7 separate regions of the Homo sapiens genome follow, and all the other regions are reported to be linked to region 5. The links are microRNA targets in miRTarBase. Many come from high-throughput screens and were not tested one by one. Region 5 holds a microRNA gene; each other region holds the end of a gene's coding sequence.

Region 1 (4,260 bases), not on the chromosome of region 5:
TGAAACCACTTGTAGCAAGCCACACCTATTGGGGGAGAGGTGATAAGATTATTAAGCTGAAGTAAGGCTGCTAGAATGGCCTATAGAAACCGACTTGGACAGTGGATGGCAGCAGAAGGCCATTTATTAACAGATGCTGCTGGCAGTTTTGTCCTGATGGTTGGAATCCTTCACCAAGTAATTTGTATCTAATTACAAATTGTTTGTATCTGAACATAATATGATTTACTAGAGGAAAAGTATGAAAAAATATGAAACATTAAGAAAATAAATATTCAGGTTATGTCTTTTCTAGATACTGGATGCTACTTCATTTTGATGCACCTTCATTTTGATTATTGGCATAAAGGTGAAACTTAAAAGATAATCATCTAAAGACCCCTGCCCCCTTGCTTTCCTTATGGAGACTGCCACTTCCAGTCTGGCCTCTGCTTTGCCTGCCTCTGAACCCCCTCCACATTTGGGAGCCAGAAGCAGGCAAGTCAGGAATCGTAATTGATTGGGTAGTCTGTGTGATGTCTTTGTGTTTGTGACTTACTGCCTGTCGCTTGGGCTTATATTGGATTTACTTCACTTTGTCTTCCTTTCACAGCAGTCTTGTCCAAGTTAGAGACCACTGTATCTGCTTAAGATTTCTTTGGCCCCACTCGGAAAAAGGCAGGACTCATAACTATGCTGCAGTTCCATAATCCAACCCCCATTTTGATATTTCAGTTGGAAAGAGATGTGGCTGCAAGATTATTGGCAAGGTCTGGACCAGGGGGAAGCTCTCACTGCCATGATCCACAACAATGAAACAGAGCAGACGAAATTTTGGGATTACCTACATGAAATCTTCATGAAGAGGCAACATCTCTAAGTGCCCTTGCAAGAGCCTTTAACTTGGCGGAGCTAAGGAGATCTTATTCTACCATGGGACATAAGGAGCATCCACTGCACAAACCCTTAATGAACACTGTCTTTTCATGGATTCAAGGAATTCCAGTTTTATCTATTAAGATTTTATCTTAATGATGAGTAGCCAAGGTCTAACATAGGGCCTCTCCTCAAGGAGAGATGGAGGGATACAATTCTTGGTTCAGTGGGAAACAGAACCCTAAAACATCCATTTGATTCAAGGTGCTGGTCCAACAGAGTTTTTAAACTACTCACTTCTTTATTTCATCCTTTCGACTGTACTTGATTACCAGTGAAGTAAGATGGGTCAGGTTACGACTTACAACTTTTGTTCTATTCCCCAGACTCCTCATTATTCAGTACATTTCCCAATAATCTCTTTTTCTCATCTCTTGCTTTATAAATTGTTACGTTGGTGGAGAAGCAAAACATTTGGTGAGTTGTATTCTGGTTTTCCGGAGTTGGATTTTTTTATATTATATACTTTCATGTCAAACTTCTATTTTACTTATTTATTTATTTTTTTAAAATATTTTTTGTAGAGATGAGGTTTTGCCACATTGCCCAGGTTGGTCTCCAACTCCTGGATCAAGCAATCCATCCGCCTTGACCTCCCAGAGTGCTGGGTTTACAGGCATCAGCCACCTCACCCAGCCCTAATTTTTTTTTTTTTTTTGGCTTTTTCTGGCCAGGCGTAGTGGCTTATGCCTGTAATCCCAACACTTTGGGAGGCCGAGGAGAGGCGACTGCTTGAAGCCAGGAGTTTGAGACCATCCTAGCAAGACCTTGTCTCTAAAAAATAAAAGAATTAGCAGGGCATGGTGGTGCACACCTGTAGCCCTAGATACTTGGGAGGTTGAGGCAGGAGGATCACTTGAGTCCAGGAATTTAAGGCTGCAATGAGCTATGATCATGATCACTGCACTCCAGCCTGGGTGACAGAGCGAGACACCGTCTCAAATTATATATATATATTAAGATGGAGTCTTGCTTTGTCACCAGCTGGAGTGCAGTGGCATGATCTCGGGTCACTGCAACCTCCACCTCCCTGGTTCAAGCGATTCTCCTGCCTCAGCCTCCTGAGTAGCTGGGACTACAGGCATGCACCACCACGCCCAGCTAATTTTTTGTATTTCTAGTAGAGACAGGGTTTCGCCATGTTGGCAAGGATAGTCTCGATTTCTTGACTTCGTGATCCGCCCGCCTTGGCCTCCCAAAGTGCTGGGATTACAGGTGTCAGCCACCGCACCCGGCCTCAAATACATTTTTTTAATGGCCTTGTCTTTCCTGGTTTTAGGCCCTTTTCCACAATTTCTGATGGAAATACAGAAACCTTGCCATCATTCTTACTGCTGGTTTGCATCTCATTTATGGTGTATCTGGGATTTCTTCTCATGAACAGAAAGATTCAGTGGCTGTTATATGCCTTGTCAATTTAATGTATTGCCCTATCCTCTTTTTGATCAAAGATAGAGACTAAGACTGGGAATTATGACAGAAAAAGTCATATTTTTCTTTAAATGATTTTGAAATGTTAAAATAGGCCAATATGAGTCAAAGTGCAAATTTTTTGGTGAGTAGGTTGACAAAAAAAAAAAAAAATCCAGGAAAAAAAGTGCAAATTTTTATAGGTCCTAATTCTTTTGTTTGCCTAATGAAGTGTTCCCTCTATTTTATTGTTTTTATATGCTACAAAGTCCCATCTTCTGCAGTTATGGAAACAGTGTGGCTGTATGTTTTAGTAATTATTTCATAATCTGTAGCACTTTTCACTTTAAGTGCAATGAATAGTCCAGCTTCATTCACTGTATTACTAATACGCTTCCCTATGACTTTTTTTTTTTTTTTGAGATGGAGTTTCGCTCTTGTTGCCCAGGCTGGAGTGCAGTGGCGCGATCTCAGCTTACTAGAATCTCTGCATTCCCAGTTCAAGTGATTCTCCTGCCTCAGCCTCCCTAGTAGTGGGGATTACAGGCGCCCGTCACCACATCTAGCTAATTTTTGTATTTTTAGTAGAGATGGGGTTTCACCATGTTGGCCAGTCTGGTGTCGAACTCCTGAGCTCAGGTGATTCACTTGCCTTGGCCTCCCAAAGTCCTGGGATTACAGGCGTGAGCCACCGTGCCCAGGTGCCCCCACCTTTTTTTTTTTTTTGAGGCAGAGTCTCACTCCATCACCAAGGCTAGAGTGCAGTGGCGTGATTTTGGCTCACTGCAGCCTCTGCCTCCCAGGTTCAAGCAATTCTCGTGTCTCAGCCTCCAGAGTGGTGGGATTACAGGCACGCACTACCATGCCTGGCTAATTTTTTTGTATTTGTTTTAGTAGAAACAGGGTTTTGCCATGTTGGCCAGGCTGGTCTCGGACTCCTGACCTCAAGTGACCCACCCGCCTCGGCCTCCCAAAGTGCTGGGATTACAGGAGTGAGCCCCGTGCCCAGCCTGAGACTACTTTTTGATGGAGCCCACTCAAGGGGATGAGGAGGTTTAAGCCACAAGTGGCTGGCTAAATAAAAGCTTAGTCAGAGCTGGGCACGGTGGCTCACACCTGTAATCCCAGCTACTTGGGAGGCTGAGGCAGGAGAATTGCTTGAACCTGGGAGGCAGAGGTTGCAGTGAGCTGAGATCGCACCATTGCACTCCAGCCTGGGTGACGAGCGAAACTCCATCCCAAAAAAAAAAAAAAAAAAAAAGCTTAGTCAGATTTGGGGATGCAGCCAAACCCTTCTGTTGCTGTGGTTTGAACATACAGTCTAATGAGCAGGGAGACCATTAGCTCTTTCTGGGGCAGTGGGACAGGAAAGAATACCTTGGACCTTAGGGCTACTCTAGTTGTAATGTATTAGTGAGTTATCACTAGAGAAGTTCCACAGTTTAATATTATCTATACCTATATCTATATATCTACCTATATAGATAGATATATGTTAGATGCTTCAACAACTAGGGTCTACACTTAATATACTGACATCTAAGGATGCGGCCAAGAAAAGCTGTAATTAGGCTGAATTTTATTGCCAAAGTTGTTCTTTTTTCATTTAGTCCTTTAATAAAAGATGATCTTCATAAATTACAGAAAGTTTGCTTACCCTGTTTGACCTTTTGCAGAAAAGAACAAGAGGGAAGACAGACCTTCAGGCTGGGTGCAGTGGCTCATGCCTGTGATCCCAGCACTTTGGGAGGCCAAGGTAGGAGGATCGCTTGAGCCCAGGGATTCAAGACCAGCTTGGGTAACATGGTAAAACCCCATCTCTACAAAAAACAGAAAAAATTAGCTGGGCATGGTGTGTGTGCCTTGTAGATCCAGCTACTTGGGAGGCTGAAGTGGGAGGATCGCCACTGCACTCCAGAAACTAAAAAAAAAAAA
Region 2 (4,000 bases), not on the chromosome of region 5:
GATTTTAAAGAATAATCTTAAACAGTGGTATTTTCTAGATTTTGAGGTCTTCTTTGAGCTCCACGGTTGCTGTGGCTTGGTTCAGCATCTTCCTCAGCATTCAGAATGATTTTGAATGTGATTAAGGATTTTTTTTTCTCCTGCATTCTTATCATTGTATTGTCTCCAACAGGCTATTTGATGCATGAATTTCATAAGTTTTGGATCGAAGAGGACCCCATGGACATAATGGAATTTAATCGTGTGAGGGAGAAATTCCGCAAGAGGATCATCAAACAGCTGCAGAACCCAGACATGGCGCTGTGCCCACATTTTGCTGCCTCGGAAGGTTTAATCAACATGTAGTTGCCCACGCCGGTTTTAATGGATACCCTGGAACACTGCCTCATTGTCTTGTTAGATCTCTGCTTAGGTCGCAGCTCACGCATTGAATGCACACAGTGATTGTATGCATGCCTTTTGGTACAGTGTTTTCATCTCTTGGTCATAATTCCGAGATCCCCAGAGACCACTGTTTCTGGAGTATCTGTCATCCAGTGACTGCTCATATTGTGGCATTATGCAGTGTTACATCTTGCCTTGATACCCAGGTATGGAGAGAGTTTTCTATTTTTTTAGACTTTTTTTCCTCTCCCTCATAATTCAGCATTAAAGAATTGTATTTCTCTAGCTGTATTTTGTATGTAAGAGGTTTAGCTGAATCTCATTCTGTGAAAGCCTTTTAATTTATTGAAATGTTTCATGACTACTGCTGCTAGCTCTTCAAGCCAGGTTCATGCTTGGACCTCATTCTGATAAAGTATAAGACTTTAAAATAATACAAAACAGGGCCGGGCGCAGTGGCTCACACCTGTAATCCCAGCACTTTGGGGAGCTGAGGCGGGCGGATCACGAGGTCAAGAGATCGAGACCATCCTGGCCAACATGGTGAAACCCCGTCTCTACTAAAAATAACAAAAATTAGCTGGGCGTGGTGGTGGGTGCCTGTAATCCCAGCTACTCGGGAGGCTGAGGCAGGAGAATCGCTTGAACCCGGGAGGTGGAGGTTACAGTGAGCCGAGATCATACCACTGCACTCCAGCCTGGCGACAGAGCAAGACTCCATCTCAAAAATAAATAAATAAATAAATAAATAAATAAATAAATAAATAAATAAATAAATAAAATAGTACAGACAGACACATGATAAGCCAAACTGTTCCTGCAAACATAGCTATGCTTCATGAGGCTTACAAGAAGTAACTTTAGGTAGGAGCTGTTTTTGTTTGAAGTACTGCAAAATTATATTGTAACTTCCCCTCACCCCAGTTGCAATTGTGTCATAGTCATCTGTATATCAAACTATTTTATTCCCATAACTTCATTGGCTTGGATGCCTAAGTGTATGATGCTTGAAGCCTCAGAAAAGAAATAAGCATATTTCAAAAGCTGCAAAAGGTTTTTCACTGCCTGCCTCTTGCGGAACTGGGTTACACCCTGGCACTGTTCTGATCCAAGCATATTTGCTTGGGGAACTAAGTGCTGACTAGTTTGTTTTCTATGTCAAGGGGCAATATTAAAAAACAATTTGCAAGAAAATGTGTTTCAAGAGAGCAACCTAAGCTAAGTCACTCTGCGATATTTCTTGAAAATAACGACCTTGTCTTGTATCAGTGGAAGAAGTAAGTTGCTTAGAAAGGGAAAAGTCAAATTGTTCCAGAACTGCTAAAAATCATTTTAAAAACCATGATTTAGTTTGGAATTATGATTGTAGTCTGTTGAATAGTATTTACCATGGCATTTCATACCCATGGTATTTTATACCTTCTGACTATCAATTTTAGTATTATTAGATGTTTGTGTAACCACTTGCTTATTTAAATGAATTTTGAGTACTGCCTAATTGTCAGTTATATGAATAAATTACATGTCATTCTACTGTAACGTATATTGGATTTCATATTAATATTTTTGTGCTCGTACAGCTTCTGAATATGCAAATATGTGAGTGAATGGAATGTCAAAGACAGACAACCTGGAGCTGACTATAAATCACACCATCATTCAGAGTCAGCAGGTTCACAACTTCCTAGGAAACCTGGCTTGGCTGTTGCTAGATAAAGCAGAAACATTAACTACCCATTGTTTTCTTGGCCTTTCTCTCCCTTCTGCGTTTGTATTATCCTTTCCTTCTGCGTTTGTATTATCCTTTCCCTTTCAGCCATGTACCAGGTGGCAGCATTTTGCATTGCCTTTCTTATGGTCCTGTGTCCCTTCTTAGAATGCGGAAGGGAAAGAGTTGATTAGCACATGGTGGATACCATGAGTAATGACAAGAATGTATATTCCTCTCTCAAGTAGGGGAGAACTTGTCAACCTAGTTCCTCAGGCCTGCCTGAGGAGCCCTGAATTTCCACCGTAGCTGCAGCTGCTGTAGATGAAGGCATTATTCCACATGCAGTCCAGCCTTTGCAGCCACATGTGCTCATTGTCTCTTTTTATCCATTGTGGTCCCATGTCACTGTCACGGCTTGACAGCATGTGGCACTTACACCAGCTTGCGTCTCTTCTGTTCAGATAGAGATAGTTGACGCCAACAAAGCTAAGAGTTTCCCCTCTCAGCTCCTAGGATGCTTTCTTTCTATTGTATTTGAACATGGCTGCACAATCTTAGGATGAACAAGCTGTGACGGCTCCTTTGAGCTCTGAGTATTATTAGATTTCTCATTCACACCACTTTGTGGAAGATGCATTCCACCCAGTCACACAAAGTGAGGTGAGAAAAAGAAGAGGAGAGGTTTCAAAAGCATCAACAACATGTGGAGTGTGTGTGTGTGTGTGTGTGTGTGTTTCCCTTGAATATTTTTAGCTTATACTTTTCCATTGAATAAGGGTTGACCACATAAAATGTCAATTGTGCGGCAAGCCTCTTCCAAGTCTTCCAAAGCACTACTTGCTATGATAAAAACACATTCCTGTTTGCACTACAGAAAGAAAACCTTCTGAAGCACTGTTTCTGAAACTTGACTCTGACCTTCCTTCTCACGGTTCTTGTTATTGTACTGTGCTGAAAAACTTTTGCCTGGTAACCCACCATCTTTTCCATATTTGAAAAGAGGCTTAAATATATGCCAATCCCAAAAGACAGGGTGACCTTACAATATATCTTCCAAAACAGAACACTGTTGAGAGAGAAAGGGGATGTTGTTAATGGTTTCTTTAGAACAACAGAGTAAACTGGGACAGTTTAAGAAAACTGAGATGTTAGGTGGCCAAGAGAGACCAAGAGACAGACATAAGGATTGTCCACCCACAACTTAATTAGGCAAATATAGCCCAATTTCTTTACTTTCAAGCCTCTGGCAGGAGAAGTACATCATACAGATATAGACATTTTGATATCCAGGATACTACCCAAAATCTTAGAGACCCATCACAAGCATGGGCTTGGTTTGAGCTGAGAAATTCAGCTGCATAGATGGGGCCTAAGTTGGCAATAGGCAATCAAACTCCATGGCAACAAATTATCTTGATCCGTAAACATATGGTGCCAGATCCAAATTGAAGGGGAGTGAGGAGGGGACCAGAGTTGGTGGAATATGAGGATAGGAGATGGCAGATGATGGAGAGAAGAGGAAGGGGGCAGAGAAAAAGGAAAATATCAGCTAGACCCATAGCCACTAAGCCTTCTGACACAGACTCTATTAAAGCAATGCCTCTAACTCTTCAGGGAGCTCAACAACGGTAGCTGCTCTAATCTAGAGAAAAAAATGACAGAAAAGCAGAACCAAGTATAACATGAAGTCCTAGAAGATGAAAGAGATTCTGGTACAGATTCCATTTCAAGAGCTCACATTTACCAGGTTTTTATGCCATGTGCCAGGACGGTGCTAGTCCTTACCTTGCATTATTTCATTTCCTTAACAACACACAGGATCAGATGGGTTGTTGTTTGCCTGCGCACTTGTTTTTCTAGACAAACAGGCTTAGATAATTTAATACATTGCCAAAGGTCTCAAGA
Region 3 (4,292 bases), not on the chromosome of region 5:
TCTCGATTCTCGGGCTGGAATGAAGGGAGAGGTGAGCTCTAAAATGTCAGTGAAGGTGATACATGCATGTCTTCACTGGCTAGCTATAGGCCAGGTGTCAGAAGGTGGGAGTAAGGGTTTGCTTTGTTCCATTTTGTTGTTGTTTTGTTTTGTTTTGTTTTTCTTTTTTTTTTTTTTTTTAATGGCAGAGTCTCGCTCTGTCACCCAGGCTGGAGTGCAGTGGTGTGATCTCGGCTCACTGCAACCTCCGCCCCCCAGGTTCAAGTGATTCTCATGCCTCAGCCTCCCAAGTAGCTGGGACTACAGGCAACCACCACTACGCCCAGCTAATTTTTGTATTTATAGTAGAGACGGGGTTTCGCCATGTTAGCCAGGCTGGTCTCAAACTCCTGACCTCAGGTGATCTGCCTGCCTCGGCCTCTCAAAGTGCTGGGATTACAGGCTTGAGCCACTGCTCCCAGCCTATTTTGGTTTTTATAGAAGAATAACTCTGAGGCTAGTTTAAAAGGCCAGATTAAGTAATATCTTTAAGAAATAATCACCCCTCTTCATTACTCACACATGGACCACAGAACGATCATAGGTGACCTTGGGCAAGTAACTTCTCTTTGCCTCAGTTTCCCCACCAGTAAAATGAGGATAATTATGATACTGACCTCATGAGGTTGTTGTTTGGGGTTCCATGGTTCATTAGTTTGCCTGGCACATAGTAAGCCCCAGTAAATGTTACCATTATTAATGGTAGTGTGCTTTCTCTTGGAATTGGACATTGCAGAGGATGCCTTCAGCCTAGCCGTGGCCTCAGGGATCATTAAGGTCTTACTTTTCTTCCTGTCCTTCTCTTCCAGTGGTAATGGGAAACTGGCATCCTGGGCCTCCATCCTGGGATTTGTAGTGATGATGTCACTGGACGTTGGCCTGGGCTAGGGCTGAGACGCTTCGGACCCCGGGAAAGGCCATACGAAGAAACAGCAGTGGTTGGCTTCTATGGGACAACAAGCTTCTTTCTTCACATTAAAACTTTTTTCCTTCCTCTCTTCTTCATCTCATTATCCTGATTGACTCTGATTATAATAGAACCATTTTTACTTTGCTTTGAGGGAGATTTTTGATTTAATGGGGAATTTTAAGGTGTCATGGAAATACAGATTCTTTGTTTTGGCCACTGAATGGACTCTCTCTTCAGTGGGATTATCAAGGAACTTCAGATCAGGGAAATCTCCACTTCGGGACCTTCTATCTGCCTCCCAACTCCTCAAGGTCACCTATAGAAGCGAGCTACCAAAAGACGTCTCCTAAGCATTTTGGTGGCCTAGTGACTCAGGGCAGAGTGGCCAGCACACCTCTCATCCGCCCCTCCTGCTCCATCACTGCTGAGCCTCTCCCCATCTAGAATGTTGGAACTGGAGCATCATAAAGATAGCAAGCTACCTTCCAAGGCCGAGCCAGCCCAGAGAGGAGCATGTCTTCCTTTACCTCCCCCTAAGGAGATACTACATGGGAGGGGGACACAGAAAAAGGGAAGGAAATTGGCTAGTCTGGCTTTTTTTTTTTTTTTTTTTAAAGGCAAAGATTGACATTATTGAAGGAAAGGGGATGAGGACAACTGTGAACTCACAGTGAGCCCTGTGGAAAGAAGAGACAGACAGAGTGTGGGTTTGTTCGGAGGCCTCTGCTGTCAATGGATTCCAGGAGCAAGGCCATTTGTCGCGCTTTCCAAATTTCTTAGGCATTTATTTTGATAAGTTTATAGCCATCATGTTTCTAAGAGACTTGGAGACACCAGCAAACTGCTAGAACTCAAACTCTTCAATTACTCAAAGAAGGAGCCATTTCAGTTAACTCAAGTGAATGAAAGAGTTTTGGAATCTGCTGTGGGTCCTTCCCTGTTGACCATTTGGTAACTTATAATCTGACAAAAACTCTTGAGCTGCAACAGGCCTTGCCAGAGGGCTCAGGATGGGAAAGGAAGAAGGGGATAGGAAAAGAAGAGGTAATTTTACATTTCCCCTTTAAAGTAAATTTTAGCCAACTCATCATTCTGAAATGTCCCTATAAAGAATGAGTCGAACTAGACCAGAAGCCAGCCTACTCCTTCTTACATAGCTTCTCCAACAGGGGTAGCAATGACCTGTCCACTTCAAACACAGATAAGGCCTGCCATCCTCATTGGTTAAAGGCACACGTGAGACTTTCAGTGGGCTCTGCTGAGAAGGAAGGCAGCCCAGGAGTCAGGTATGCAGGCATTGCATTGTCAGTGTCTGCTCTCAGAGTTTACACATTCAATTGCTTCCAAGGGTGAATCTCCTGCTCTGTGAATGCTATCAGACCCCAAAGGCCAACCTTGGGCTGGGTCTATGTACGTTCTTCCGAAGCACTGATGATCAAAATTGAAGACACATTCAGAGGTTTGATTGGTTGAGATTAACTGGTGTGGTGGTTGGTGTATGTATGTTTTATTTTTATGTCTTTGTATGTAGTTCTACATAATGCAAATTGTGCTTTCTGATGGACAAGACCTCATAACTGTGATTAATATCAATAAAAAGGGGATGTTGTGGATGACCTGTGTTACGTTCAGTACTTCTCAAAGCTGCTTCTTTGCAAGGATGATCATAAAAGAGCTAACTAAAGTTGGAACTAACACCTCCCTGATCCAACACTAGGAGAGGCAAAGGAAAGAGCTCAGATGGGAAGGGCTAGTCAGATTCTTGGTTGCAACAACAGCATCCAACAGCAGCTTACTTAAACAGAAAAGGAAATGAGTGGAAGCCTGTTAGGGAATTCACAGGCTCTTTCGGAGAATCGGGCTTGAAAATGGGTTGGATCCAAGAAAGCCAGAGGTCTGGGGCCATGACCCAATCACACCTGGAGAACAGCTTGGTTTAGATGCCATGGTCCCCAGAGCTGGTCCCTAGATCCTGGACACCACTAATGAAACTGCTGTACCTTGATGCCACCACCACTGCCGCCACAAGAACAAACTCTACACTGAGCTGGATTCTTTGTGTCCTGGCTCCACATTCGAAGTTCTAGATCAGAACATCCAGCTGCCAGAGCTTAGATCCTGTGCCCATGAACTAGCTGATCTTGCCCCTTCCCAAGACTCGCAAAATAGTGGATTTTCCAAATTTGGGAATGAGTTCATATGGTGCAGAGCCAAAATAGAAAAAAAAAAAAGGGTCTATTAAGTTCATTACAGCCTTACTCTTTTGCTGTTCAATATCAACATATACTCTAATTCCTCTAGTTTTACTTAAAGAAAAAACTCTTGCTTAAAATATGTAGCTATTCCTCATACAATCAAAACTTCTTTCATTCCCTTTCCAACGGGGTTACCCCAATGTCTTTCAACTCCTGTACTCAAGGTCTGTGAGTAATGGATACCCCACCTCCGTGGGATAACAAGCCCATCTCATTATTCTGTATCTTTGAGCTGAAGTGTAAAGTTAACCATAACCGTTCATCCCATATACAATAAAACGAATAACGGGAGAGGAAAGAGAGGCAATGAGTTAAAATAGGATACACACAACACAGGAAGTACAAGTAGAAGCTACAGCACCCATTTCCTGCCCTAGAGAAGAGACCCTGGATGATGTTTAGGTTTCCCGCTTCCAGTTTCCATTCCAAGTCCATGCTGTCTTCAGCCAGTACCTTAGATGACTGGGGTGTGACCTACTAGCCGTGACCCTATTCCTCTTTCCTAAGGGCACAGAGACCAAGGAGGCCCTGCCCATATGCATGATGGTAACAGTCTTCCCTTAACTCCCACCGCTGGAGGAGGAGGAGGAGGCGGCTCCTGAGAGAACCACTTGAGTTTCATTCATAGCCTCCACCCTGGCCTGTCTCCCGTGGTATAGCAGCATTTTCCCAGGACTAGTCACTGCAGCCAGCCTTGTCAACCCACTTTTTTGACCTAATGGCATGTGAAATTCCAGGTGGCCAGCCCACATGTCCAGACTATTGCTATATCACTCTTTTTCTGTTCAACATCTATATTCACTCTAATTCCCCAAATTTCACCTTTTTAAAAAATGTCTGCTTTAATGGAACCATCACTCATACAAACACTTTATATCCCCTTTCCAAAGGGAGCCACCCCAACGGTCAGCTGCCTCAATGGTGCAACCTTCCTTTCCTGGGAATAAAATCGCTAATTGGTGGAAAAAAAGTTGAAGAGAGTGAGAGTCATTAAGTAAGATGGAAGTTGCACCGTGCCTACTTCCCCTTCCTCCAGACCTGTTTAGTCTGGCTGTGGGAGAAACGGCACCACGTGATGTTCCCTAGTT
Region 4 (4,292 bases), not on the chromosome of region 5:
TAATTTTTTGTAGAGATGGGTCTCACTGTGTTGCCCAGGCTGGGATGATTGTTGTAGGGAGGGGCACAAGTCCATGAGTTCCAATTTTCAGGCCTGTCTCTTGGACTGTTGAAACACAATTATACTTCAACTGGACTTGGAGCTGCTGGAGCCTCAGGCTGGGGCCTTCAATTGAAGCCAATATTGAAGCCATTTTCAGAGCAGACCTGAAAAATGGGAGATCTAGCCTTGTTAATATTATGTGAATCCCTGAGTCAAGATGTGCCGGAATTGAGAAAGAGCTGAACTCTTAAGACTTTTCAGTTATGTGAAATAACAAATCCCCTATTCGTAAAAGCCAGTTAGAAATGGGGCTTTAAGTCCTAATTTATTGTTAAACATTTTTTATGAAGCTATACCACATCTCTAAACTTTTACCAGCACATTTCTGATTTCTGTTCCCCTGTACTGTGATCCATATTTTATTGAAGTTTTGGGGCTTCTTTTGTAGAAATGATAGAAATGTATTTAATAAACATTCTGGAGTATGCATGCCTTTAATGAATTAAACCTCATAGGCACTTGATATGAAGGGATTTAATGTTTGTGAAAATGAAGTGAGACAAATAAATTACACATTGAGATACAGCCCAAGTTGCTAAATGTTTAAAGGTTGAGGCTTGTAATTTTATTTTCTTCCATTTCATAATAGTGTAGTGACACATCACAATACATCTCTACACTGTGACTTGATTTCTCCCGAATCTGTGTCTGATGCTGGGAACACTGATGTTCTGGCTGAATCCATGACACTTGCACACTTGTGCTCAGTTTGCCTCATGACTGGGGTCACTCCAGCCAAGGCTGCAAACTAGGACAGAGTTTGAAACTGGTGCTCCCCTGCGAGACCTTTACTTCACATATTACAGAACCAGGACCACTAGGCCAGCTGGTCTATAAAGAGCGCCTAAAATGGCAACCTATTAATCTCAGATTTTTTTTTAGATGGAGTCTCACTGTGTTGCCCAGGCTAGAGTGCAGTGGTGCGATCTCAGCTCACTGCAGCCTCAGCCTCCTGAGTAGCTGGAATTGTAGATGTGTGCCATCACGCCCAGCTAATTTTTGCATTTTTAGTAGAGATGGGGTTTCACTATAATCTCACCATCTGAAATTATGGCCAGACTGGTCTTGAACTCCTGACTTCAGGTGATCCACCTGCCTCAGCCTCCCAAAATGTTGGGATTACCAGCGTGAGCTACCGTGCCTGACCATAATCTCAGATATTTTCTAAACCAGTATTTTGCCACCAGTAAATGCTGATTATTAAAAATACACTCAAAGGCCTTTTTGTCCTATGACTGATGCTGCTGAAAATTTGATGTAACCATCTTGGCAATTTGTGGTAATCTCATTTCTACAAATGTGTGGAGGAGATGCACGAGACCCGAGTAAATAATATTGTTTTCAGTTGCTTTTTTCTGTTATCACTATAGACATAACCGTGGAATCATCGAATGACAGGCACAGTAACCAGGAAGACATAGATTGATTGGGTGGGGTCACCTTCATAGTCACCTTGGCTAACTTTCCAATTATGTACACATTGTATCTTGGGAGGACAACAAGGATGAAAGAAACCCAAGTTTTAGCATAGAATACTTGAGCAGCTGGAAGTGGTTCCTTCACATAAGTAATATTAATTGAGCACCCACTGTGAGCCAGGCCCTGCACCAGGGTCTCTGCTCTCGTGGAGCTCAGTCTGCTGGGGAGATAGGTTACCAGACAGACATGCCCTATGTTCTTAATGCCACTGGAGCACTCACCACGTCAGGTGTGACACGAGAGGTGGGGCAGTCTCTAAGTGGAAGTGGGGCTCATATGAATGAGTAGGGCAAGTCTGGGAGACAGAAAAGGGGAAAGGTCATTTTGGGCAGTGGAAAGAAATAAATCAAGTGCAAAGACACAGAGGTGCAGGAGGCCCTGGCCAGCAAAGGCACAGAGGTCAGGCGAAGCCCAATGGAGAAGCATGCATGCCACGCTAAAGCATTTGAACCCTGTTCTGTAGGCCCTGCTGGGGTCAGCGGAGGGGGTGGAGGGGTGGGAGTGGCAGGCAGGAGATCCTTTCAGGCAGGAGACTGACATCAGATTTAGTGTTGGAGTCTGGAGTCTGAGGGAGGAATCTATAATAACTGGTAGGTTCTATGGATGCTGAACCAGAATGCAGAGGCGGGAAGCAGGGGAGATTGGCTAGGAGTCTTCTGCAACAGTCCAGGCTCATGATGACAGGACTTGCACCTGTGAGAGAGCACAGGCCACAGAGGGCACGGGGTGCTGTCGAAAAACTCTTCTGAGGTACAACAAGTAGACGGCAGTGCCTGATACTACTTGGATTGGGAGAAAGAGGCATCAAGGACTGAGGTAGCAAGCTTGGAACTGAACCAGTAATGCTACCACAGACTTTCATGCAGTTTAAATTCTCATAGGGTAACTTTTCTTCCTCACTCTAATAGCACATCATTAAGACAACCAACAAACCAACAAACACTTTTTTTTTTTTTTTTTTTTTGATTCGGAGTCTCGCTGTCGCCCAGGCTGGAGTGCAGTGGCGCGATCTCGGCTCACTGCAAGCTCCGCCTCCCGGGTTCACGCCATTCGCCATTCTCCCGCCTCAGCCTCCAGCTTGGCTGGGACTACAGGAGCCCGCCACCATGCCCGGCTAATTTTTTTGTATTTTTTTTAGTAGAGACGGGGTTTCACCGTGTTAGCCAGGCTGGTCTCGATCTCCTGACCTCGTGATCCGCCCTCCTCTGCCTCCCAAAGTGCTGGGATTACAGGCGTGAGCCACCACGCCCAGCCGACAACTAACAAACACTTTTAAAAATACTTATCTAAAAAGCACAAGAGAGGCTGGGTGCGGTGGCTCATGCCTATAATCCCACCACTTTGGGAGGCTGAGGTGGGCGGATCACCTGAGGTCAGGAGTTCGAGACCAGCCTGGCCAGCATGGTCAAACCCCCTCTCTACTAAAAATACAAAAATTAGCTGGGCGTGGTGGTGGGCGCCTGTAATCCCAGCTACTCAGGAGGCTGAGGTAGAAGAATCGCTTGAACCCGGGAGATGGAGGTTGCAGTGAGCAGAGATCATGCCACTGCACTGCAGCCTAGGCAAAAGAGCACGATTCCGTCTCAAGAAAAAAAAAAAAGGAGAGAGAAATAATCACTAATATTAAGATAACACAATATTATTCCTGTCCACACCAAGAATATACCTTGTATATTATTGTTACTTCGATAATATACCTTGTATATTATTGTTACTTCGATAATATACCTTTGCCTACTACCTACCTAAATCCTTTTGTTATTTTAGTTATTTTAGAGAGACAGGGTCTCACTCTGTCTCTCACGCTGGGGTGCAGTGGCCTGATCATAGTTCACTGCAGCCTTGAACTCTCCAACTCAAGCGATCCTTCCGCCTCACCCTCCTGAGTAGCTGGGACTACAGGCCAGCGCCACCACACCAGCTCGTTTTATTTTTATTTCACAGAGATGCGGTCTCGCTAGGCTGCCCAGGCTAGTCTCAAATTCTTCGGGCTCACGCGATCCTCCCACCTCGGTCTCTTAAAGCGCTGGGATTACAGGTGTGAGTCACCGCCCGCAGCCGCACCTGCCTAAATCCCTTAATGTATAAGGGAAAGGAGCGAGAATTCAGGGGAAAAAAAACAAACAAAATAGCCCCCAGCACTTCTGAGAAAGATCTGCCATACAGAAAAGCCGTCCTGAGCGGGTCTGTGTGGAGGGAGGGGACTGCATCTCAGATCCACAGTCCACCGGCGGCTGCAACAATTCCACCCAGGGCTGCAGCACGCTGGTTCTTCAGTGTCGGGCCAGGTTGGACCTCCGGCTGGAGGCCTTCCACACCGGAAACACTGGTAGGGCTCCTCTCCAGTGTGGGTTCGAGGGCGGTGGAGGAGCTCGGCACTGTCGCTGAAGCCTGGCCCTGGCCTCGCCGAGCGGTCCGGCCGCTCTGTGCTGCGAGGCCTTCCGGGCTGGCTCAGGGTAGCCTGGGGCCTGAACCGCCTCCCGCGAGTCCCGTCCCGCGCTCGCACAGCTTCTGGGCCCCATCGCCCCCTCCTGCTGAGCTGCCGGCTGGGTGGCTGGCGGAACCTGGGCAACTTCCAGGCCTCCCAGAGGCACTGCAGGCACTGCGGGAAGGCCGGATGGAACCAGAGGCTGGAGACTGAGTGGGGGGCCAGGATAAAGGAAGGGAGGTCGGGGCAGGAGTGTGGATGGGGGCAGATGTTGAAGGAAGGA
Region 5 (4,000 bases):
GGACTCTCAAGGGGCTTCCAGGACCACCCTCCTCTAGTGCTGTGGCCAGTGTCCATTGGGAGTGGTTGGTGCCTGAGCTGAACTAGTTGTTAAATATTTTTAATATCCATCCTGCCAGTGGAGAAGGTGGAGCCTGAAGCAGATCTTGGGAGCAAAATACAATCTGGGTTCCTGTTGGGAAGAAAGTACACTTGTGCCTTCAGTAAGCATGTATTCAGCCAGGCATGGGCCTACCAAGATGAGTAGGACATGCAAACTTGGCTTGAAGGAGTGTAATCCAGGGATGGCCAAAGCAGGACTTTGAATATTGTGTTCCCATGTCCTGAGAAAGCACAGGGGATTATAGAGTACTTCAGGATGACAACTCAGCCTCAGAGGGTGGCAGAAAAGTTAAGTCCTGAAGCATTATGGGAAGTTCACACACTCAGTATTGGACTCATTAGAAAGACTGGAAAGCAATGGCTATAATACCATTTCTACTGGACATTTGTGGAACCCCCAAAATTTAGATGAGGCACATAGGCTAAGATTATCAAGAGATTCATAAGTCAAGATTTAGAATTTGAACTATATACTAGTGAAAGGCCATTGACCAAAGGCTGTTTTAGGAGAATCAATTAGGTTGTAGTCTGCATATCATAAGCTCTATTTTCTTTGAAGTTCCTACCAGCTAATAGGTACTTAGTAAATATTTGTGAAAAAAATGAATGAATTAATGACTAGGAAATCACCCAAAGTAGCAAATCTATTTATGGGAATTTTCCCACTACAGGTGACATGCCCCCAGATGAAACCAGAGGCCGCCAACATTGAAAAGGTGATGGAAGCAAAAAAACACTTCTAAAAACAGTAAAGACGTTGGTAACTAAGAAGTTTTAATTATAACCTTCTGCTCAAAAAAGGAATGTACCCTTACTGCAATTGCACACATTACTTGTTGTCGTAGTTCATTTGTGTAGCTACAAAAGAATACCCGAAGCTGGGTAATTTATAAAGAAAAGAGGTTTATTTGGATCACAGTTCTGCAAGCTGTACAAGAAGCATTGCACCAGCATCTGCTTTTGGTGAGGGCTTCAGGAAGCTTCCACTCACGGAGGAAAGGGTAGGAGAGCTGGTGTGTACAGAAACCAGGGGGAGGTGCCAGGCTCTTGTTAATGATCAGCCATCAGGGGAACTCTCATAGGAACTAATACAGCAAAAACTCACTCCTTATCACCAGAATGGCACTAAGCCATTCATGAGGGTCCACCCTCATGATCTAAACACCTTTTATTAGGCTCTGCCTCCAATATTGGGGATCACATTTCAACTTGAGGTTTGCAGAGTCAAATATGGAAACCACAGCATTGGTATAAAATATATGTATAAAACATATTTACTATAGAAAGTAGTAGACATTTTCTTGAATTGTTATTCTCTATATCAAGTTGTACATAAAATGCAATGGTTACATTTTAAAGAAATTTGGTGAAGGTAGGCTGGGCACCATGGCTCACACCTGTAATCTCAGCACTTTGGGAGGCTGAGGTGGGAGGATCACTTAAGCCCAGGAGTTCAAGACCCCCTGGGAAACATAGTGAAACCCCATCTCTACAAAAAAAAAAAAAAAAATTACTAGGTGTGCTGGCACACATCTGTAATTCCAGCTACTGGGGGGCTGAGGTGGGAGGATCACTTGAGCCTAGGAGGTGGAGATTGCAGTGAGCCAAGATTACACCACTGCACTCCAGCCTGGGTGACAGAGCAAGTCTCTGTCTCAAAAAAAAAAAAAGAAAAAAAAAAAAAAAGAAAAAAGAAGGAAAGAAAGATTACATTGTAATGTTAAGCATTATCTATTTATTTTTTTTATAATGAGGTATATCCAAACCAAGTATTTGTATTTACTTGAACTATGTAATAACTTTTGAATAATATCTCTTCTGCTATATTTAATAAGATTAGTTCCACTGTCCCTATAGTGGCTTTTTCAAGGTCGCCTGTGTGATGATGGAGCTGGGAATACTCTGGGGAGAGAGTCCTCTTTTCAGCTGTATTTTGCTTCCTTCCCACACAGACATCTGCTGTGCCTCTTACTCACTTTTAGTTGCTGTTTTGGATTTTATGCCCCTTTAATCAAAACTTATTATGCCACAAGATAGATTGACTTGTTTCCTGAATTCTTTATTTTTATTTAAGGGTTTCTCTGTGAAATCTTAGGCATATTATATCACATTTGATTGTCAAAATTTTACGTGTTTGATTTTTCAAAGCTGACCTTCATATCATATTTGTGTGGGCTTATGTGACTATAGTAAAACTTTTTTGTGCCTTTCTTTAATACTTCCTTATAAGAAGTATACGTGTAATTCCAGCAATTTGGGAGGCTGAGGCAGGAGGATCACTTGTGCCCAGGAGTTTGAGATCAACCTGGGCAACACAGGGAGATTCTGTCTCTATATTAATTTTTTTTTAAGTTTGATGGTGTGCACCTGTGGACCCAGCTATTTGGGAGGCTGAGCTGGGAGGAACTCTTCAGGCCAGGAAATTGAGGGTACAGTGAGCCTTGATTGTACCACTGCACTCCAGCCTAGGTGACAGGGCAAGATGCTGTCTCAAAAAAAAATAGTAAAAATCTTACAATGATTGACAGAAGTATAATAATTTCAATGGTGGCTTTGAGCTAATGAATTGTTTCTTAAAGCTATGTGAAAGCCAGCTGTGTAATAGTAGAGATTATAAATTGAAACTGTGTTTTTGATGAGTTTAAGTGTTGCTGACATACAGTTTATTTAAATTTCAGTCTTTTTTTTTTTCTGTACTCTTTACCTTCCTCAGTCATCAATGAGTTCCAAAAGGGGGCTTTGAAGTAAATCATAGATTCTGTTTGATACTGTAGGAATTTCCATATTCTAGTACAGCAACTCTATTAAATAAACACATTGTGTACTTAAATTGGATCTCTCACAAGTCACAAATAATATATTAGAACTAGAGCTGAAGTACCTTTATATTTGCTACTTTTGTGTCATACCTTTCTAGATTATTGGCTTTCTGAAGGATATTAGAAAGCATCTTCTAAGATACCTAGTAAAACAGAAGTACATAGAAAAATTTGTGAAAATCTTTCCTTTTTGAAAACCACTGGTTGTTACATATGAACTTTTCCCCAGAGTTACAAAAGAAAAAGAGTATTTTTCAGGAATAAAAGACATTTAACAATTTTATATTAGTAAGGTATATATTTCACAGATTTGTCTATACCATCTATAATACATAATCATTTCTTTTAAAAAATGGCTTATGATATTCAGCTTTTTATGCATTCTTACAGCATACATTTTGACAGACTAGATGATTAATGATGACATAGGATAAACTGTATTTGGGATTGTGTAATAAACACACAGTATGAAAAGTCTAGTTAATCCTTTATGTCAGCGCCTCCCAAAGTGTACTCTGTGAACTACCACATCAGAAGAATCGCCTGGTGTGTTTTTAAATGATGTAGATGGCTGAGCTTTACTCCAGACCTCCTGAGTTAAAATCTCAGAGGTGAGAGCCAAGAATATTTATTTAACAAGATTAAGCATAGTCTCTAAGTAACCCTTAAGTGCACTTAAGTATGATAACCACTGCTTTGTGTTGCAAGAGGCTGACTTTACTGAAGAGTCAGGGCTGAATATGTAACATCAGCACATAAGAGCATAAAAGTAGAAGAAACCCTTCACATTTTATTAAGCTTCTTCTTATCCAGGTTAATTCAATGTATTGCCAAAATTCTATTTAGAGGCAATTAAAGTAGCTGAGACCACATGGGACATGTGGGAATGGAGGATACTCTGCCAGCAAATGGGCCCTTCTGCATTTCATATGCATCACCTTAAAAGTAAGAAAATATCTGTGCTGTATCACCATAAAGTTTTAAACCATAACACTTAGAATAAATTTAAGTTTCACTTCCAAAAACTAATAATTACTGTGTACCTATATAGAGTCCTTTTATTCATTGTTTAACCTTGTC
Region 6 (4,292 bases), not on the chromosome of region 5:
ACCCGGCCAGTGCTGGGCCATTTTTACATGAAGGTCCACAGGGACAAGAGGGCGACTGGCTACCCCTAGATCAAAAGGCTGGGCTATTGTGCTTTTCATAAACCCATGATTCCAAGCGTGGTCTTCCACTGGATCAGTGTACCCTTTTTACAATTGTTGGAGTGTAGGTCCTCAGCAGGAGTGGGGGACAGTGCCTCGAATCGCACGAAGAGCTTTTCCTAACTACCCTCTCTCACTCTTTTGCATTCACCACTTTGAGTCAGCAATGGGTTGAGAAGGAAGTGGGCCTGAATTTTATACATTCTGACAAGTTTGGTTAAGGGGGTAGTCCTAGTAGAGGACTGAGGGTCTCACCCAGGGTGAAGGACTGAGGCTTTGTGACAGCTTGTGCACCTCCTGGACCTTTTCTCTTCCATCAGGACTGACAGCTGTGCCCCAGCCATTTAGGCTGCTTCTCCTTGCTGCTCCTCTATGGCTAGGTGTGAGCTTCTTAGGGCTGAACTGATCATTGCCTCCAGGACAGGACTGGATGGGGGACTTTTGCACACTTAAAGTTCTAACTAGAACAAAGTCCACCAGAAGTGTGTGGTGAGTGCATTATAAAATAAAAATCTTCCTGGCTGGCCCAGATGAACAGATTTGTACATTTGTAGACCATGTTAGTAAGACATGTTTTTTGAAGAGCTAATAGTCATTGAGCACTTAGGAGTCACGCCCTATTCTATGCACTTTACGTTTGACTCATTCAATCCTCATAATCCCATTTTATGGATGAGGAAATCTATGCATGGCATGACCTGTCCAAGGAGACTCAGGTAGCAGTAGGAAGAGGACAGCTGAGGCAGACAGGTTGCAGAAGCAAAGTCGTGTCTGCATTATTCCATGGTCCCATGGAAACTATTGCAAACATGTTAGAGAATCAAAGGGAAATAACAGCTCAGGAATGAATTCAATACCAGGCTCTGCATAAATTATGTGACTTAAGTGCCAGTCTTGGTTGAGGTTTATCATCACTTAGAGGAAGAAAGTAACTTGTTCAGGGCCTTAAAGTTAGGTTAAGCTGGAATTTTAACTCAAGTCTGTCTAGATGGCTCTTATGCCCACACTCTCTCCTACCAGCTCAAGTGAAAAAGCTTTAAGATGTTGTATATGGTTTTGACTGTGTCACCACAAGCCAAGGAGTTAAATTCAAGGGTTGGAGATCCCAGAATGAAACCAGCAGGCAGAAAGAATGTGTCTCCTAACTTTCACAGGGAACCCTCTAAGTGGAGGCCTATGATAAGAGAGAAAATGATTTATCCCAGATGCATCTATTAGCAGAATTATGAGACAACATTGTTCAATAAAATCCAAATAACAATACAGTTGATAAAGTGACAATTGTTTAACATTATTAAAAAGGGAGAAAACAATGTTTCTATAGATGTGAGCTAACCCTGAAAAACATTTTTCTTTCTAAAACTGTTTTGTCCAGCTGGAGGGAAAATAAATAAAAGAAAACATGAAAGCCAATAGAAGAATAATATGAGCATGAAAACCCATCATTAATCTTCTATTCAAATGGCAGTCACAGCTGCAGAACAAATGAAAGCTTTTTTTTTTTTTTTTTTTTGAGATGGAGTCTCACTTTGTCACCCAGACTAGAGTGCAGTGGCCGGATCTTGGCTCGCTGCAACCTCCGCCTCCCGGATTCAAGCGATTCTCCTGCCTCAGCCTCCTGAGTATCTGGGACTACAGGCGCCTGCCACCACACCCAGCTAATTTTTGTATTTTTAGTAGATACAGGGTTTCACCATGTTAATAGCAATTCTTGGGTTGGGCGTGGTGGCTCACGCCTATAATCCCAACACTTTGGCAGGCCAAGGCGGGCGTACACGAGGTCAGGAGATCAAGACCATCCTGGCCAATATGGTGAAACCCTATCTCTACTAAAAAAATACAAAAAATTAGCCAGGTGTGGCGGTGCATGTCTGTAGTCCCAGCTACTCAGGAGGCTGAGGCAGGGGACTCGCTTGAACCTGGGGGGCAAAGGATGCAGTGAGCCAAGATCATGACACTGCACTCTAGCCTGGCAACAGGGCAAGACTCTGTTTAAAAAAAAAAAAAAAGAGAGAAAGAAAAAAAATAGCAGTTCTTTTCAGAGACAAAACTAAGTATATGACAATATACTCAGAAGTTAACAAGTGGTCCAATTACGTATCTGATTCTTGGGTCAGGCAAATGACCCCAGAACCACCAGTTTAATGGTGTCTTAGTTTAAAAATCAAACATAACTCTTCACATATCTTGTAAAAAAGAAAGTTTAAAATAATTTTAGCAAAGTACTCTGTGTGTAGACATGAGTCATCTACTCTCTTATATACTTTAATGGTATTAACTGCATGATTTTCCCTGCCTATAGTTGGTGCAGGCATATGAAGATGGGGTCAGAGCAAGGAGGGGGAAGGTGACATGAGAAGGAAAATTGGGTAGGGGCTTGTGGGGAGGGCGACTGAGGCCAAGGAGAAAGAGGAAGAGCCCTGGAAGGAGGGTCCTGCTTAATTCAAATTCTCCTCTTCACCAATAACTTTAAATAGTTGGCCACTGAGATAGCTCAGGTATGAAATAAGTCTATGCATGAAGTGATCTTCATCTCTCAAGCTATCATCATAAATATTTATTGAATAACTTCTATATCTTAGCCCCTGTATATCCTTCACTGCTTTTAAGAAATTGGGAAATCCCTTTTGGAGACCAAGTGGTTAAGAGAGATGTGATCTGAATGTTTCATTAGGTAGTTGTTTAGAGACAATGCATAAAATAGTAAGAATGCCATATGGAATGATGAAAATAAATTTATTTAGAGAAAATATATCATATTTCTTTTCTAGACAAAGGTAAATACCCAACCCAGCAGAGTTCAATTGTTAAAATGAGTGACCGCTGCTACAGGTCACTTCCACATGTCATGTGTGTACAACTGACCATTAGCACAAGTGACGAGGCAGCCAAATGATTCCATTTCTTATTTATCCCACTGGCTATGCCAACAGTTGCTTCATATCATGCTGAAGAAAACCCACAGGAAAACAGGCCAAGAAATGTCCACTGCATGAGCATGAGGTCTTTTTGTTGATTTAAGGGTGATTTTTTTTTTTTTTTGAGACAGGATCTCACTCTGTCACCCAGGCTGGAGTGTAGTGGCACGATCATGGCTCATGGCAGCCTCCACCTCCAGAGCTCAGGTGATCCTCCCACTTCAGCTTCCCAAGTAGCTGGGACTACAGATGCCTGCCATCACGCCCGACTAATTTTTGTACTTTTTGTAGAGGTGGGTTTTTGCCATGTTGCCCAGGCTGGTCTCAAGCTCCTGAGCTCAGTCTGCCTGCCTAGGCCTCCCAAAGTGCTGGGATTACAGGTGTGAACCACTGTGCCAGGCCAAGGGTGATCTTTAAACAGCTTAATAGTTCACCAGCTTGGACTCTCTAGATTGGTATTGCAACCAGCTTCATTTCTGTACAGACCATGAATTAACAAATGTCTTCAAACCCAAGAATCACCTTTAAAACAAATCCTTATTTGACAATAAACACACATATTTAATTACATGGTTAAAGACTATTATTTCGCACACTCTGAAATGATCTTTTTCCATTCCGAGATCATGTCATAAATTAACAGACTAATAGAGAATTTTATTATCGCTGTTATATTGCACTAATGCCCAGTAGTAGCCCATGGTCTATTCTTTATCATTCAAGTTTATAAAAAGTAAAGCTGGAACTTCAGTCATGGTCAGCTGGCTAACTGTGAGTCCTCTTTCCCACTCCACAATTAAATAAGAGAGTCATTTTGGAACTGCTTGTCCAAGTCATTTGGGGTTCCTCTGCTCAGCCGCTGGATAAGGATGCCTGAACTTTAATCATCTTTAGCAGAACTTTAGCTAATAGGTATCAAGTGATCATCACTTCTTTTCCTGTAACAGAAAGGGAAAGAAGAAAAGAGGAAAGATACAATACTTTAACATCTTTGAGGAGCAATAGGAATACTCTATATTCTAGGCCCGTAGATTATAGACATGTTGAGTGAAACATAGAAGAGGAAGAAAAATTAAGACAGGCAAGGTATTCTGATTATTTACCAACATTCAGAAAAAATAAGTAAATAAATAAATAAAGGCAATGTACACTGTTTGAGGTTTGAGCAGATGCTTTTGGAAACACTGTGAGGAGTCACCTGTCTCTTAAGAACCTCCATGCCCCCAGGGAGGGGAACATCGCACACGGGGAAATGTTGGGGGGTAGGGGGAAAGG
Region 7 (4,000 bases), not on the chromosome of region 5:
CATGGCTAATTTTTGTATTTTTAGTAGAGACGGGGTTTCACTATGGTGGCCAGGCTGGTCTCAAACTCCTGACCTCGTGATCTGCCTGCCTCCAAAAGTGCTGGGATTACAGGCGTGAGCCACTGCGCCTGGCCCTCTTCTGTCTCACAGCAAAGTTCAACTCTTATATGTAGTTATCATTTTAGAAAGAAGGAAACTTAGGTCCAGAGATCTGAAGGGTGAAAAAGGCAACATAACTGGTTCAGGGTCACACAGCTGGGAACACCAGGCTGAAACATCTTGTTGGCCAGTCTTGTGCTTCTGAAAGTCATGACAGCAGAGGAGCAATGCAGTCCTCCCGCCCTTGACTGGGCAACTCCAAGGCTGCACCTATTAACAGAGCTCGAAGACCAAGCCCCTGGCAGCCTGTTTGTGATAGGGTGCAGTGTCAAGAGTGGGCCAAAACCCACAAGATGGCCAAATTCTCCTACCTCCTACTGCAGGGGTGGCTGCCCAAGAGCATCATCAACCAGGTCCTGTCCCAGACCCAGGTGGATTTTGCCAACCACCTGCGCAAGCGCCTGGAGTCCCACCCTGCCTCTGAAGCCAGGTGTTGAAGACCAGCCTGCTGTTCCCAACTGTGCCCAGCTGCACTGGTACACACGCTCATCAGGAGAATCCCTACTGGAAGCCTGCAAGTCTAAGATCTCCATCTGGTGACAGTGGGATGGGTGGGGTTCGTGTTTAGAGTATGACACTAGGATTCAGATTGGTGAAAGTTTTTAGTACCAAGAAAACAGGGATGAGGCTCTTGGATTAAAAGGTAACTTCATTCACTGATTAGCTATGACATGAGGGTTCAGGCCCCTAAAATAATTGTAAAACTTTTTTTCTGGGCCCTTATGTACCCACCTAAAACCATCTTTAAAATGCTAGTGGCTGATATGGGTGTGGGGGATGCTAACCACAGGGCCTGAGAAGTCTTGCTTTATGGGCTCAAGAATGCCATGCGCTGGCAGTACATGTGCACAAAGCAGAATCTCAGAGGGTCTCCTGCAGCCCTCTGCTCCTCCCGGCCGCTGCACAGCAACACCACAGAACAAGCAGCACCCCACAGTGGGTGCCTTCCAGAAATATAGTCCAAGCTTTCTCTGTGGAAAAAGACAAAACTCATTAGTAGACATGTTTCCCTATTGCTTTCATAGGCACCAGTCAGAATAAAGAATCATAATTCACACAAACATCAGTCTTTGTTTTAATATTGTACTGTTAAAAAAATCTATGCAGCTGGGTGCAGTGGCTCACGCCTGTAATCCCAGCATTTTGGGAGGCTGAGGTAGGCGGATCACAAGGTCAGGAGATCGAGACCATCCTGGCCAACATGGTGAAACCCCGTCTCTACTAAAATACAAAAAATTAGCTGGGTGTGGTGGCGCAAACCTGTAGTCGTAGCTACTTGGGAGGCTGAGGCAGGGGAATCACTTGAACCCCGGAGGCGGAGGTTGTAGTGGGCCGAGATTGTGCCACTGCGCTCCAGCGTGGGCGACAGAGTGAGACTCCATCTCAAAAAAAAAAAAAAAAAAATCTATGCTAGTAGATTACAACTTCACACTAGAGGAGTTCTGGACAAAGCTTTTAATTAGTCAAACTAAATTAAGGCTCATTAAAAGGAAAGGAACTACTGGGAAATTATGCAATTCAATAATTTAGACTCTGTTACCAGGATCTTTCATAAAAATTTAATTTCCATAATCATAACCTAAATGAGTTCTTAAAGAATTCTATAAGCAATAGCTGATTAATGGGCCCTGGAAGATGAAGATTATAACTGTTTATTTACCTAATTAAAAGGAAAGGCAGTGCCAAATATGAGAGGATAAACAATATTAGTTAACATTTCTGTTATTTATGATGCCAATTAGTAGTAAGATAATTCCACAGCTGTCAACTTTGTTTGGGGCTGGCAACTTCTCTGCTTAAACAGGCTAAAAGTTTAGTATTCTGGGAGAAGTGGCTGGAAGAAGGGGTAATATGGTGAAAGCAAATTCCCTTTCCCAGGAGTCAAGAGAATTTATGTGAGGTGGCTCCCGCCTGTAATCTCAGCACTTTGGGAGGCCAAGGCAGGCAATCACCTGAGGGCAGGAGACCAGCCTGACTAACATGGAGAAACCCCATCTCTACTAAAAATACAAAATGAGCTGGGCGTGGTGGTGCATGCCTGTAATCCCAGCTACTTGGGAGGCTGAGGCAGGAGAATCGCCTGAACCCGGGAGGCGGAGGTTGAAGTGAGCCAAGATCGAGCCACTGTACTCCAGCCTGGGCGACAGAGCGAGGCTGTCTTAAAAAAAAAAAAAAAATTATACACACACACACACACACACACACACACACACACACATTGGGATGGGAGGGGGGTAGGGAGGATGAAAAAATCACCATTACCACCTGAAGCTTTTCCATTCTTGTTTTAATAGCATTGATGATTTGCACCATTTGGAGATAGAGCTCTGGCTTATTTATTATAAAACAGGAGCTGGGCACAGTGGTGCCTACCCACAATGCCAGCTACTCTGAAGGCTGAGGTGGGAGAATTGCTGGAGGGCAATTCGAAACCAGTCTGGGCAAGATAGTGAGACCTCATCTCAAAAAAAAAAAAAGAAGGAAAAAACAAAGGAGTTGATGAAACCAAATTATGACAAACTAAATTAAAAAATTAAAAAATAGCATTAGTGGGAACACTGTGGTATTTCCTGAGGTATTAAAATTTTACAACTAGTAAAGGTATTTATTATAATTTATTCGGATTGTTTCTTAGTTTATTTTTGACATGGATAAAATTATTGTTTATCTAGGAGCCTCAGAGTTGAGAGAGGATAGTTGTAGAGAAGTATTTCTAAAATGGAATTATCATCCACTACCAGCTAAGAGAAAATAGTTACTTGTTTAAAGATACCTTAAAGCAACATATATTGTAGTTTCAAGAGAACAGGCTGACAGTCAAGAAATAGGCTTTTAACAAACCCACTGGTTTGCTGGATTCTAATTGCCTCCTTCAAACTATGTAATTGTGTCTTTCTGGTTTCTGTGGAGATATTTTCCCACTTGTTTAATTTTACACTGGAATAAAACAAGTTATCACTGTTGATCTGATTACAGAAACTATTTTATATAGGACGCTGTGAAGAGTAGATATTCTCTGAGCCCTTCAAATGAACTGTATTAAAACACACACACACTTTTGAAGTTTGAGAAGAACATCATTACCTGTAACCTTTGATTTGTGAAAATATATACAAAAAGCTAATTTTATAATTTAGATGGAGAGTGTGTATACAACTTATATGTGGTAATTTATATTACAAAGAGTTAACATTCAGCTTCCTCTAAATAACACCACCCTCATTTTCTTGGAGTACCTCAAACTCCGATGATCTAGAAGCTTTATAACCAGGTCTGCCCTTGAAGACTAGTTCACGCATTAATAGGTGTCTAGGGCTGAGCCTCAGCCTCCAATCACACTCGACCTGTATAGGCTTTCCTGTTCAGAGATATGCAGTGGCCAAATCAAAGTGTCTGGGTGATTCATCGGGAGACAAATATATTAATCAATGCTACTATGTTAAAATACCAATATTGTCTTGAAGTGTGGGAACTCTCTTAAACAGGAAAATGATAAGATATTCAGAAGAGCCACAGGCATAACATGGTGATTCTGCAGCAGCATGTCACCCTCCAGTGGTGAGCCACTCTACTTATTAACCGAGGTAGAGAGGTAAATGCAGGAGGGACTTTGGGCAATCCTGGGAGGGCTGTCTTTGCCGTAAGACTGATGTATTGAAAAAAGGAAGACAGGCCGGGTGTGGTGGCTCATGCCTGTAATCCCAGCACTTTGGGAAGCCGAGGTGGGCAGATCATGAGGTCAGGAGATCGAGATCATCCTGGCTAACACAATGAAACCCCGTCTCTACTAAAAATACGAAAAAAAATTAACCAGGTGTGTTGGCACGTGCCTGTAGTCCCA

What was found. Region 5 holds the annotated microRNA hsa-miR-8082 (UGAUGGAGCUGGGAAUACUCUG, at 1,985-2,006, shown strand). A microRNA usually pairs through its seed, bases 2 to 8, with sites in the 3' UTR of a target mRNA and lowers its output. Matches are read on the target gene's strand: a 7mer-m8 pairs with bases 2 to 8, a 7mer-A1 pairs with bases 2 to 7 and ends in A, and an 8mer does both.
Region 1: miRTarBase lists POFUT4 as a target of hsa-miR-8082. The part of its 3' UTR that is shown has no 7-base or 8-base seed match.
Region 2: the mRNA of ELMOD1 is a reported target of hsa-miR-8082. Seed matches in the 3' UTR shown: 7mer-m8 at 1,100-1,106.
Region 3: the mRNA of SLC39A11 is a reported target of hsa-miR-8082. Seed matches in the 3' UTR shown: 8mer at 1,363-1,370.
Region 4: the mRNA of ZNF843 is a reported target of hsa-miR-8082. The part of its 3' UTR that is shown has no 7-base or 8-base seed match.
Region 6: the mRNA of MCOLN2 is a reported target of hsa-miR-8082. The part of its 3' UTR that is shown has no 7-base or 8-base seed match.
Region 7: miRTarBase lists STAR as a target of hsa-miR-8082. Seed matches in the 3' UTR shown: 7mer-m8 at 687-693 and 7mer-m8 at 1,536-1,542.

Annotation. Positions count from the first base shown.
Region 1 is chr10:73,774,827-73,779,086 of GRCh38, forward strand. It overlaps POFUT4 (protein O-fucosyltransferase 4), which reads left to right. Exons shown (of 3, transcript NM_173540.3): 3 at 715-1,393. The coding sequence ends at 859. Among named protein-coding and RNA genes, the nearest start is that of POFUT4, 4.7 kb to the left of the region's middle.
Region 2 is chr11:107,664,853-107,668,852 of GRCh38, forward strand. ELMOD1 (ELMO domain containing 1) reads left to right here. Exons shown (of 12, transcript NM_018712.4): 12 at 173-1,927. The coding sequence ends at 345. Among named protein-coding and RNA genes, the nearest start is that of SLN, 45 kb to the right of the region's middle.
Region 3 is chr17:72,644,219-72,648,510 of GRCh38, reverse strand. SLC39A11 (solute carrier family 39 member 11) reads left to right here. Exons shown (of 10, transcript NM_139177.4): 10 at 849-2,562. The coding sequence ends at 927. LOC105371887 (a long non-coding RNA gene) reads right to left here. Exons shown (of 4, transcript XR_934961.3): 4 at 4,046-4,292. Among named protein-coding and RNA genes, the nearest start is that of LINC00511, 5.9 kb to the right of the region's middle.
Region 4 is chr16:31,431,949-31,436,240 of GRCh38, forward strand. ZNF843 (zinc finger protein 843) reads right to left here. Exons shown (of 2, transcript NM_001136509.3): 2 at 3,486-4,292. The coding sequence ends at 3,855. Among named protein-coding and RNA genes, the nearest start is that of COX6A2, 5.7 kb to the left of the region's middle. RefSeq lists an enhancer at 3,533-4,033.
Region 5 is chr4:113,150,308-113,154,307 of GRCh38, forward strand. It overlaps MIR8082 (microRNA 8082), which reads left to right and starts at 1,975; the gene lies at 1,975-2,055. The region is part of intron 1 of ANK2 (ankyrin 2); the gene reads left to right.
Region 6 is chr1:84,922,767-84,927,058 of GRCh38, forward strand. It overlaps MCOLN2 (mucolipin TRP cation channel 2), which reads right to left. Exons shown (of 14, transcript NM_153259.4): 14 at 2,817-3,955. The coding sequence ends at 3,919. Among named protein-coding and RNA genes, the nearest start is that of LPAR3, 32 kb to the left of the region's middle.
Region 7 is chr8:38,140,869-38,144,868 of GRCh38, reverse strand. STAR (steroidogenic acute regulatory protein) reads left to right here. Exons shown (of 7, transcript NM_000349.3): 7 at 483-2,169. The coding sequence ends at 596. Among named protein-coding and RNA genes, the nearest start is that of STAR, 8.1 kb to the left of the region's middle.